3 linked regions of the Homo sapiens genome follow. The protein of the gene in region 1 purifies or fractionates together with the protein of each later gene. This does not show direct contact. Each region holds a gene or a part of one and is shown in the gene's direction. Other genes may lie near its edges.

Evidence for each region.
Region 2: the proteins of GNPTG (region 1) and CHST9 purify together in Homo sapiens (co-immunoprecipitation; one large-scale study listed by IntAct). This does not show direct contact.
Region 3: the proteins of GNPTG (region 1) and C1QTNF9 purify together in Homo sapiens (co-immunoprecipitation; one large-scale study listed by IntAct). This does not show direct contact.

The regions. Positions count from the first base shown.
Region 1 is NC_000016.10:1,354,785-1,358,435, forward strand, and holds part of GNPTG (N-acetylglucosamine-1-phosphotransferase subunit gamma precursor), read left to right. Parts: intron 1-3,651. UniProt on the Homo sapiens protein: Non-catalytic subunit of the N-acetylglucosamine-1-phosphotransferase complex, an enzyme that catalyzes the formation of mannose 6-phosphate (M6P) markers on high mannose type oligosaccharides in the Golgi apparatus.
Region 2 is NC_000018.10:27,178,770-27,182,420, reverse strand, and holds part of CHST9 (carbohydrate sulfotransferase 9), read left to right. Parts: intron 1-3,651. UniProt on the Homo sapiens protein: Catalyzes the transfer of sulfate to position 4 of non-reducing N-acetylgalactosamine (GalNAc) residues in both N-glycans and O-glycans.
Region 3 is NC_000013.11:24,319,492-24,323,094, forward strand, and holds the end of C1QTNF9 (complement C1q and tumor necrosis factor-related protein 9A precursor), read left to right. Parts: intron 1-1,504; coding exon 1,505-2,277; 3' UTR 2,278-3,040; downstream 3,041-3,603. UniProt on the Homo sapiens protein: Probable adipokine. Activates AMPK, AKT, and p44/42 MAPK signaling pathways.

The DNA.
Region 1 (3,651 bases):
ATCTTTTTGTTTTGTTGATGGTGTTTTTCTCCAGACCATTTTTTCCTGCGCCTGTGGGGTCAGGCGTGGATAGTCCCCCGCGTCTGTAGGGCTGGGCGTGGATACTCCCCCGCGTCTGTAGGGCCGGGCGTGGATTGTCTCCCACGTCTGTGGGGTGGGGCCGGGCGTGGAAAGTCCCCCGCGTCTGTGGGGTGGGGCCTGGATACTCCCCCGCATCTGCGGGGTGGGGCGTGGATCGTCTCCCGCATGTGCGGGGTCGGGTGTGGATGGTCTGCCGCGTCTGCGGGGTCGGGTGTGGATGGTCTCCCGCGTCTGCGGGGTCGGGTGTGGATGGTCTCCCGCCTCTGCGGGGTCGGGTGTGGATGGTCTCCCGCGTCTGTGGGGTCGGGTGTGGATCGTCTCCCGCGTCTGTGGGGTCGGGTGTGGATCCTCTCCTGCGTCTGTGGGGTCGGGTGTGGATATTCTACTTGTTTTTTCTGTCTTTGATGTAGCGCTCCTTCAACATCAACGTGTGAGGCGGATTGTGTGCAGTGGGTAGGAGAGTGTGGTCTGTGGAATGAGCTGAGCAGAAAGATAATCAGGCTGAGAAACTCAGGGGCGTGGTGATTGTGGCCTAGGGCTCAGAAGGTCCCCGCAGAAGAGTGTCTGCCAAGGAGAAGGAAGGGGTGGGCTTGCCAGGGCCGAGGCTGGTGGGGCTGGGCTGGGCAGTGGGCAGCTCCATGGCCTCCACCAGATGAGTCGGGAGCCTCGTCCCTTGACAGCAGGAGGAGCAGAGGTTGGTAGGTCTGTGATTTGGAGACAGTGTCCCGCTGTGGCATGGAGAGGGAATGGGGCACGGTCAGTGTGGTGGTCCTGCCAGCGCCCAGCAGAGTCCAGCATAGCCCAGCACACTGTCCAGGAGGGAGCTCTGCCTCGGTGGCGGTGGGAGGGAGCGGCCAGCTGGGCAGGACTCTGGGGCCTTGGCAGGGTCCTGGATCTGGGGAGGGGGCGGGGGAGGAGTAGAGTGGCCCCGGGATCCTGGCTAGAGAAGCCATGGCAAGTGCGGCTCCCAGCATGTGAGTTGCAGGGGTCAGGCTGGGAGCTTGCTTTCGGCTGGGGCCGGGCTGGGTCTGCCAGGCAGTCCCTGGTGCTTGGAGAGGGTCACGGTGGGCACAGGACTCACCAGGGGGTGCGTGAGGCCGGAGGGTGAGGGTGAGGTCCCCGGTGAAGTTCTTGGTGGCGTGTGGGGGTTGTGGAGGTTGGGAGGGTACTGGGACCAGGTGTGGGGCCGGGCCAGGGAGCAGCGTGGGAGGGAGGACCACCCTTGAGAAGGGATTGTCACCAAGAGACGCAGCCCTAGGGGGAGTGCTGCCCACCGAAGCCTGACCGGGGCAGAGGGGAAACGGAGTCCAGGCTCAGCCAAGCTGATGGGCCTTGAGCTGTGGCCTCGGGTGCAGGGACAGCTGGCAGTAAGGCCACCTGGGCCCGCGGGAGCCAAGGGCACCGGCGAGTGTCCTGGCCATGCAGGCCGTGAACACGGAGCCTGCAGGGGACGTGCGGGTGAAGCAGGAGCAGAGGAGAAGCCTCCCGGCAGGGGTGGTGGCATTTGGGGGTGGTGGTATTTGGGGGTAGAGACTCCCGCTCAGGTATGGCTGTGTCTGGCCCAAGAGGCGTGGAGGGGCCAGCCCCCACCTGTCTCAGGAGGACAGGCTGCTGAAACCTGAGGGCCAGGCGGAGGGGAGGGGCCGTGGCCGGGGTTCTGGTGTGGGCCAGCAGCAGAGGACCTGGGGTACTGGGCACTGCCAGTTGGGGGCTTGTGGTACCATCCCCTGCGGGAGGCTGCACCTCAGCCAGTAGGAGTCCACTGAAGCTGTGGACAGCACCCAGGCAGAGGCCTCCTCCCAGCTGGGGAGCCAGGCCAGGCCCCGCTGCCCTCACACAGTCCTGTTTAGACGGATGGCCCTGCAGGTGCAGAGCTAAGCCCGGCGCCCACGCCCCTCCTGGGGTGTCTCCAAGCAGTGTCTGCCTGGGGCAAGCCTGGGAACGTGAGTTCCCAGGACACAGGAGCTTGACCAGCCACCCTCCCAGCGGGAGTGTGAGAGCGGGAATCTGCGGGCGGGGGTCTGCGGGCGGGAGTGTGCGGGCGAGAGTGTGCGGGCGGGGGTCTGCGGGCGGGAGTGTGCGGGTGGCGGTCTGCGGGCAGGAGTCTGAGTGGCAGATGGGTGAGGGACACATCAGGGTCTCTGGGATGGCTCCAAAGGCTTCCCTATGTGCCTGTTGGGCAGGGCCCTAGGGCCAGACTGGAGGGACCAAGCCCAAGCACCCCAGGCTGTGGGACAGCAGGTGTGACAGGGCTGAGGTAGAGCCCCCAGCGGTCAGGCTGGGAGGACAGTGGGTGAGCCTGGGAGTAGGGGCCACCCAGATGGTATTTGACAAGGAAGGACCAGGACCTTTCTATATCCACAGCCCCTGTCCCCTGAGCAGGGCAGCCTGGCCATCTTGGTCTCCATCTGTCTTGGGAGGGGACAGCCCCAGGGGTGAGTGGAATGTCAGGGAACAGAAGGCCAGGCCGGGCCAGCACCCCAGAGGTCTCAGTGGCATTAGCCTCTGCCCTCCGGGGGCGGGGGCCAGGCTGAGGGTGGCCCCAGTGTGGCATCTGGCTCCTGGGCTGGCCAGATTCCCAGGGAACAGTCACCCAGCACCTCGTGTGTATTTCGACTTTATTATTATTATTATTATTATTATTAGAGCCGAGTGTCGCTGTGTCGCCCAGGCTGGAGTGCTGTGTCGCCCAGGCTGGAGTGCAGTGGCGCGATCTCGGCTCAGTGCCAGCTCCGCCTCCCGGGTTCACGCCATTCTCCTGCCTCAGCCTCCTGAGTAGCTGGGACTACAGGCGCCCGCCACCATGCCCGGCTAATTTTTTGTGTTTTTAACAGAGACGGGGTTTCACCGTGTTAGCCAGGACGGTCTCGATCTCCTGACCTCGTGATCTGCCCGCCTCGGCCTCCCACAGTGCTGGGATGACAGTCATGAGCCACCGCGCCTGGCCTCGACTTTATTATTAATACGGTAAAACTACAGAGAGTTTGAAACATCAGTCTGGGGCGTCCTCCTCTAACCAGTGCACTTGCTGCTGCAGCGCAGGCCCTTCAGGGGACGGGGATGGGGGCCAGTCCCCTCCCTGCCTCCACGGCCCAAGCCCCAGCCTTCCCCACAGTCCTGGAGGATGGCCCGTGGCTGACAGTCTCGGTGGGCGCTGTGTTAAGGTGGCGTCCCCAGCCAGGTCCCGACTCCCCAGCTTAAAGAACAGGGTGGCTGCTGTGGCTTGACTCACGAGTTGCCACTGGCCTTGATGTGTACACGCCCTTGCTCTAGCACTGCCTGGGGCTGGCCTGGCTGGAGGGTAGGGACGCTGCACGCCTTCCCTCTTCCCCCAGGCGCTGGTGACACTGCCCTGCAACCGTCAGCACCATCATCTCCACAACTTGCTCTGTCCCCTTCAAACCCTGACTCCCAGCTGCCCCGCTCCCCCAGCCCCGGCACCCACCATTCTGCTGTCTCTGAACTTGGCTATTCATAGACGTCACATAGGTGACTCATAACTGTGTGCGACCTTTTGTGTCTGACCAACTCCTCTTGGCACAGTGTCCCCAAGGTCCCCCAGGCTGGAGG
Region 2 (3,651 bases), on another chromosome or scaffold:
AGGAACCAAGAAAAAGTGGGCCATTATCACCAGCTACAGTGTTCTATACTGCTCTTTTCCCTGAAAGCGTTAAGATTCTCCTAACTTAGAAGAATGGCTTTGGACAGAATAAACCCAAACTACAGATAATTTTGAAAGTAAAGTTGCCTTTAAAAATATAGTCTAATTAAAACCTTTGGATATTACATAAGAACATGTTACATCTTATTTTTCTGTATCCTAAAAATGAATTATTGAGGAGAAACAGTTTCACCATGTATAGTAAATACTCTGAATTATTCATGTTAATGAGAAAAATAGAGGCAAAGATAATGTAAAATCATGGTTATTTAAAAAGTCATTTGTGTTTGTCTTTGGAATGTATTGCATGTTTGGTTTAAAAAAGATTTTCATTGTTATTGTGGGCAAGTTGCCTTTCTAATTATTTTCTTGTGTTTAGGTTAATTTTTAAATGAGTTTTCATGCCTCAAACACGAAAACCCATTTGTGGGGAGGTGGGGAAGATGGGCAGACTGCCCAGAAATGAGCTGGGTGGCAGAAGTGAGCAAACCTGGTATGAAAACTTTGCAGGAAATCATATGTAATTCAAAGAAAGATAAGCAAGACTTGATTGTATGCCTGTTTAATGAATATGTGTTAAGGATTAGATATGTTCCCAGCAAAAATAAAAGTCTTATAGTCAAAGTTTGAGAAATTCAATCCCACTTTACATGTAACAGAGGTGGTTAATATATTTTAAGAAGTGATAATAGGTTGCTCCTGAAAATCAAATAAGAATGTGTTAATGTATGCATCTTACTATTAATACACTGCATTTTTAAGTGTTTTCCTAAAGCATATGTATGTCTTTGACGTTAAATGGCATTCCTAGGCCTTATATATTAATATGTCCTTTCCAAGAGAAGGAATAGCAAGAAGCCATCTAAATAAGGGGTTTGGTCCATTTCATCTCTGTACCTATGCTCCAAATCAAAAACACATTTCATCAAAGAGAACCTCTCAATTATTGTTACAGTGGACCAAGCTAGATAAAATAGTTGAAGTTCAGCAAGACTGCCAATTTAACAGATTTCTATTGTGTTTTTCAAAAGCTCTAGGGCAAAATGGGTTGTAGATGAGTTACTTCAGCAAGAAGCTGATTCATACCATAGCATGAAATATCTTGTTTATAGTCAGTTTTTAGTTGGACATAGATTTTGTTGAATTGTTAGTTCTGTGGACTGTTAGAATTTAGAAAACCTCTGTGTGGAAGGTTAGAACTGCCAAAAATATATGATGGGAAAAGCAGATAAGATCATTTTTATTTCAAATATTCACAGCCAAACTGTAACTTTTATGGAAGTAAGGAGAATGGTGATAGAAAAGTAGATGTACCCTTCAGAATAGAGACTATGTTCTCATCATAAATGTGCTCACTACATAAAGTGTAGGGATGCTTTTTTTTTAAGGAAACATTTTCATTTTTTGTAAGGCATGACATTTTTTAAAGACTTGACTAGACTGAATATTTTAAAAGAAATATTGTGGTTGGAAATATAATTGAGACCCACAGGATAAATTTTATATACACTTATTAAAGGAATCCGTTTCTTCTTATCAATGCCTAAGTCTTAGGATCAAGATTATGCATTTTTTAATAGAGCTGGAAAGAATCTTAAAAGTAATTTATTCCTGTGTCCTCATTTTACAGTTGCAGAAATAATGGGGACCTACAGTGATCATGATGAACTGCTAAAGGCCACACTGGTAGTGGCAGAGCAGAAACTAGAAACCTGGTCTCCTGACTCCTCATCCAGCTACCTCTTAGAAAGTTAGATTAGTTAGGTAGGGGAGTTAACTCTTTCTGGCCATCACGGTATCAACTAATATGTGATAGTCACAGAATGAAGCAGTACAGAGGTAAATGTAGAAGGCTTGTGATTTGCTGTCTTCTTTCATGCATTGAGTAGTCATCGTGGACCAGACTGTGATCCTTGACCCTCTCAGACTCTGTCCTCTTTTTTAAAAACAAATATTTTGTTACCCCCTTATTATCCTCAAAAGTCATTTATAAATAATTACAGAATATAGTTGTAATTTTTAAAAACTAATAAAATAAAAGTAATGTGTATTTCACTACTAACGCTCAGGGATAACTTCACTAGACACATAGTAAAGTCAGCGCTTGTATGAATATATGATGAATAAATTTGAATTTAAGACAAATAAAACATTAGAAGACATCCCGTGCAAGAAGTGCACGAAAGTGAAAGAATGAGGGTAGACTTAAACTAGTGTTGAGATACTAACAACCCAGACTTATTTGTAGATGAAAACCGGAAGAAGAAAGTTAATGGTATAGGGAAAATTTGCCAAGTCAAATGTAGACTCTTGGAGTGGAGAAAATTTTAAAGTATGATATTTTGCAAATGAGAGAGTAAATACCATTGATATACTTCCACTAAAATCCCAAAAGTACTTTCTGGAACATTTCCATGTTGTTAACTAATGTTAATTCTATTTCAAGAGATGAAGGTTACTCACCGTATTGTCAATAAGTAAAATACTTGAAAATAAAAATTACTGATTTGGTGCTGAGTTGGTCTTAAGTTTAATTTCTATCAACATTATAGTCTATCAGTTCTAGAGTTAGAAGATAGAGTACATGAAATAACTAAACTATTTTTGTAAATTGCTCGGCTTTTGGTGGGAATGTAAATAAAATTCTTAATTGTAATTATGTACCAGGTTATACAGTTTGATATGCATAACATTTAGCTAAATAGGACACATAAACTTTATATGGAATATTTTTAGAAAAACTCTTCATTAAATTGGGCTGCCTCCCCCATATACACTAAAAGCCAATAGCACACCACCACTACCACCACCAATAATTTGTGACAACCCTGAACATACCCAGTCCTACCTAAAATATTCTGTAGGTGTGTCACTTGCCATTATGAGAGCCATAGAGCTAGATAACCAAGATTTTTATGTAGGCGTGGATTATTTTTCATGCCCCTACCTATCTATCTTTACTTCTTTTAAGTAGGACCATCCCATTTGTTCACTGATACACTGGCTCTAATGGATCAGAACCACAGACTTCACTGCCCTCAAGCAGGTCATGTTCTAATCTTTTTCTGTCGCTGTCACCTTGGTAAAAATTCACTTCTTCTGGTCCTTATTTCTCTTAGGAATCTATCTTTTTTGGGTGACAATAAGTGGTGACAAACTGAAGTACATGCTGGGTAATATTTTAGTGGTCTTAGGCCTTAACTGCTTAAATGTATATCTCCATAAAGCACTGAAAGTTTTCATATATATATATATAGAGAGAGAGAGAGAGAGAGAGAGAGACATTATCACACACATGTATGCATGTACGTATATGTATATATGTGCATATTTATGAAAGCATATATGTATACACACATAATTTTAGGCTTTGAAAAAACAGGAAAGGAGGTATTATTAAGGCTTATATTTTTAATGCCCTTGAAACATGCTTATGCAAAAAAGAACTGCACTAGTCCAATACTGGAATTTATACCACAAAACTACGTGCTATGAAGTATGCTTATAGTAAAAGCCCAAAAGCTATTTCCAACCCAAATAAACTGCTGTATTAGAATTTTGTTATATTGCTTGTGGTAGATGAATCCTGTG
Region 3 (3,603 bases), on another chromosome or scaffold:
TCTCGTCACTGCACTCCAGCCTGGGTAACAGAGTGGGTGACCCTGTCTCAAAGCAACAAAAAAACAAGCAGACAAACAAAACCCAGAAAAACAAAAAAACATGTAAACCATATTTGTTTAGCTTGCGGGAGGGAGGCTGAATTTGGCCTGTGGCTGTAGTTTGTTGAACCTTGAACCTTGCAGTGGATGAGCACTGAGGAGTGAGACTGAGTTTTTGACTTGGTGCATCTGGCAGCACTGCATGGAGGAGGTGGAACTAGAACTGGTCCCTGATGGGTCGGGATGTAGTCGTAGTGGCAAACTTGTGTAATCTTCACTTTGTGCTTTTCATGTACTGACTCACTGAATGCAATATCCCCAGACGCTAGGTAGTTTTATTACCCTAGTTCCATATGTGAGGGAACAGAGGCACGAGGCTCACTAGCTCATCTGACGTCCTGTGTGCATATGGGGACAGAATGGAAACCTGGCATTTAACCTCAGAGTCCACACTTGCAACCACGGCTCTTTGGTATGGGTGGGGGTGCAAGGAAGCAGCAAGGTTTCTGTAGATGATGAATTGCCGGTGGGATAGGTGGGTTGGGGCTGGGGTTGGGCAGGAGAGGGCAATGCCTCGATGCAGGCTTTATTTTATGTTCACTCCAGGGAGGAGGTTTTTAGAGGATGTCACGACTAGGGTTGAGTGTCAGTTAATCTACCTGTCTCTGCTCTGAAGAGTGCTTTCTGTCATGGATTGACATTATTTAATGGCCAGCATGGTAGACTTAGATGGTAGGGTTGTAATTTCTAACGTGAGCCCTGACACTAATTTAGTAGACGGTAGTCAAAAGGTGTGTTGGGATGTGTGTGTGTCCATGTGCACACACGTGTGTAATTGGAGTAATTGATTTTCATTTATTTTTATTTTTTTTGAGACAGAATCTCACTCTGTTGCCCAGGCTGCAGTGCAGTGGTTTGATCACGGATCACTGCAGCCTCAGCCTCCTGGGCTCAAGCCATCCTCCCACCTCAGCCTCCTGAGTATCTGGAACTACAGTTGTGCACCACCGCGCCTGGCTAATTTTTGTATTTTTTGCAGAGATAAGGTTTGGCCATGTTGCCTAGGCTGATCTTGAATTCCTGGACTCAAGTAGTCTGCCCACCTTGGCCTCCCAAAGTGCTAGGATTACAGGCATGAGCCACTGAGCTGGGCTGGAGTAATTGAATTTTATTTTCTTATTTTTCTTTTTCTTTTTTTTTTTTAGAGTCAGGGTATTGCTATGTTGGCCAGGTTGGTCTTGAACTCTTGGCCTCAGGCAGTCCTCCTGCCGCGGTCTCCCAAGGTGCTAGGATTACAGGTGTGAGCCACTGCACCCAGATGGAGTAATTGAATTTTAAACTCTGGGCATATACTGAACCTGTGCACTACTTTGTTTCATTTGTGAGCTCAATTATAGAAAAACCAAAGTTGTTCACAAGGGAATCTTTCACAAGCTATCTCTTTATTTGCTCTTTCTCTATTTAGGAGCAGATGGAAAAGTTGAAGCAAAAGGCATCAAAGGTGATCAAGGCTCAAGAGGATCCCCAGGAAAACATGGCCCCAAGGGGCTTGCAGGGCCCATGGGAGAGAAGGGCCTCCGAGGAGAGACTGGGCCTCAGGGGCAGAAGGGGAATAAGGGTGACGTGGGTCCCACTGGTCCTGAGGGGCCAAGGGGCAACATTGGGCCTTTGGGCCCAACTGGTTTACCGGGCCCCATGGGCCCTATTGGAAAGCCTGGTCCCAAAGGAGAAGCTGGACCCACGGGGCCCCAGGGTGAGCCAGGAGTCCGGGGAATAAGAGGCTGGAAAGGAGATCGAGGAGAGAAAGGGAAAATCGGTGAGACTCTAGTCTTGCCAAAAAGTGCTTTCACTGTGGGGCTCACGGTGCTGAGCAAGTTTCCTTCTTCAGATATGCCCATTAAATTTGATAAGATCCTGTATAACGAATTCAACCATTATGATACAGCAGCGGGGAAATTCACGTGCCACATTGCTGGGGTCTATTACTTCACCTACCACATCACTGTTTTCTCCAGAAATGTTCAGGTGTCTTTGGTCAAAAATGGAGTAAAAATACTGCACACCAAAGATGCTTACATGAGCTCTGAGGACCAGGCCTCTGGCGGCATTGTCCTGCAGCTGAAGCTCGGGGATGAGGTGTGGCTGCAGGTGACAGGAGGAGAGAGGTTCAATGGCTTGTTTGCTGATGAGGACGATGACACAACTTTCACAGGGTTCCTTCTGTTCAGCAGCCCGTGACAGAGGAGAGTTTAAAAATCCGCCACACCATCCATCAGAATCAGCTTGGGATGAACTTATTCAGATGGTTTTACTTTATTAATTCCTCCAATTATTACAATAATCATAAAAAGGTGAAAATGGAAAAGTTATTCCCAAAACTGATTCTGTGTAACTTACTATTTTTCCAGGAGTAAATATTTAAAATAGCTGCATGGTTTATTCTAATTTATTTCACATTTCTTATTCCTATTATCTGAAGAATCCCTCGTCTGTGCGTTTCTTGTGGGAAGAGTGTTTTAATATCATTTTAGTGCTCTGAGGAGTCATATGAAGATGTATCCCTCATCTGTGTTTCTGAGGACATTAAGGGGAAATTAGAGGGAAATGTTTATTCAATTTAGTACTAGCAACAGCTTTAAGCTGGTGATGCTGTCATACTCCAGAAAGCTGTAGACACTGCTCATTTTGTCTTTTAAAAAAATTTTATTTTATTTTAAGTTCTGGGATACATATGCAAAACATGCATGTTTGTTACATAGGTAAACATGTGCTGTGGTGGTTTGCTGTATCTATCAACCCATCACCTAGGTATTAAGCCCTGCATGCATTAGCTATTTGTCCTGGTGCTCTCCCTCCCACTTTGCTCATTTTCTAACCTAGGTTTTAATCACCATTTTACCCAACAAATCATTGTTCGATCATTATTTGCCAGACTTGAATCTCTATGTGTTTTCTAGGACTGCTCTAATAAAGTACACAAACTGGGAGTCTTTAAACAACAGAAATGGACTTTCTCACAGTTCTGTAGGCTGGAAGTTTGAGATCACCGTAGCAGCAGGGCCATTCTCCCTCCAAAGGGGATACAGGAGGATGCAGCCTTGCTGCTTCCAGCTTCTGGCAGCTGGTGGCAGCATCACTCCAGTCCCCGCCTCCATCTTCAGGTGGCTGTCCTCCTTCTGTATCAGCCAAATTTTCCTCTTCTTACAAGGACAGCTTCCCTAATCTACTATGACCCATCTTAATCATATCTGCAGCTCCTTATTTTCAAATAAGGTCACATGTACAGGTTAGGACTTCAGCATCTCTTTTGGGAGACACAGTTCAACACAAAACAATCTGCCCTCTGATTCCCAAAGTTGATTTCCTTCACCTGTGCAAAATACATTTTCGCCCCATCTCAACATTTCCAAAAGTCTTAACACTTTCCGCGTCGAGCTTTCCTGAGCCCCTCTGGTGCAGCCACCTGCCTGTCCCATACACCCCGCCCACCATGGAGTCCAGAGGGAAATGAGCCAGCAGCCCCAAACCAGACACCAAGGCGCCCAAAGCCACCACCAAGGCCAA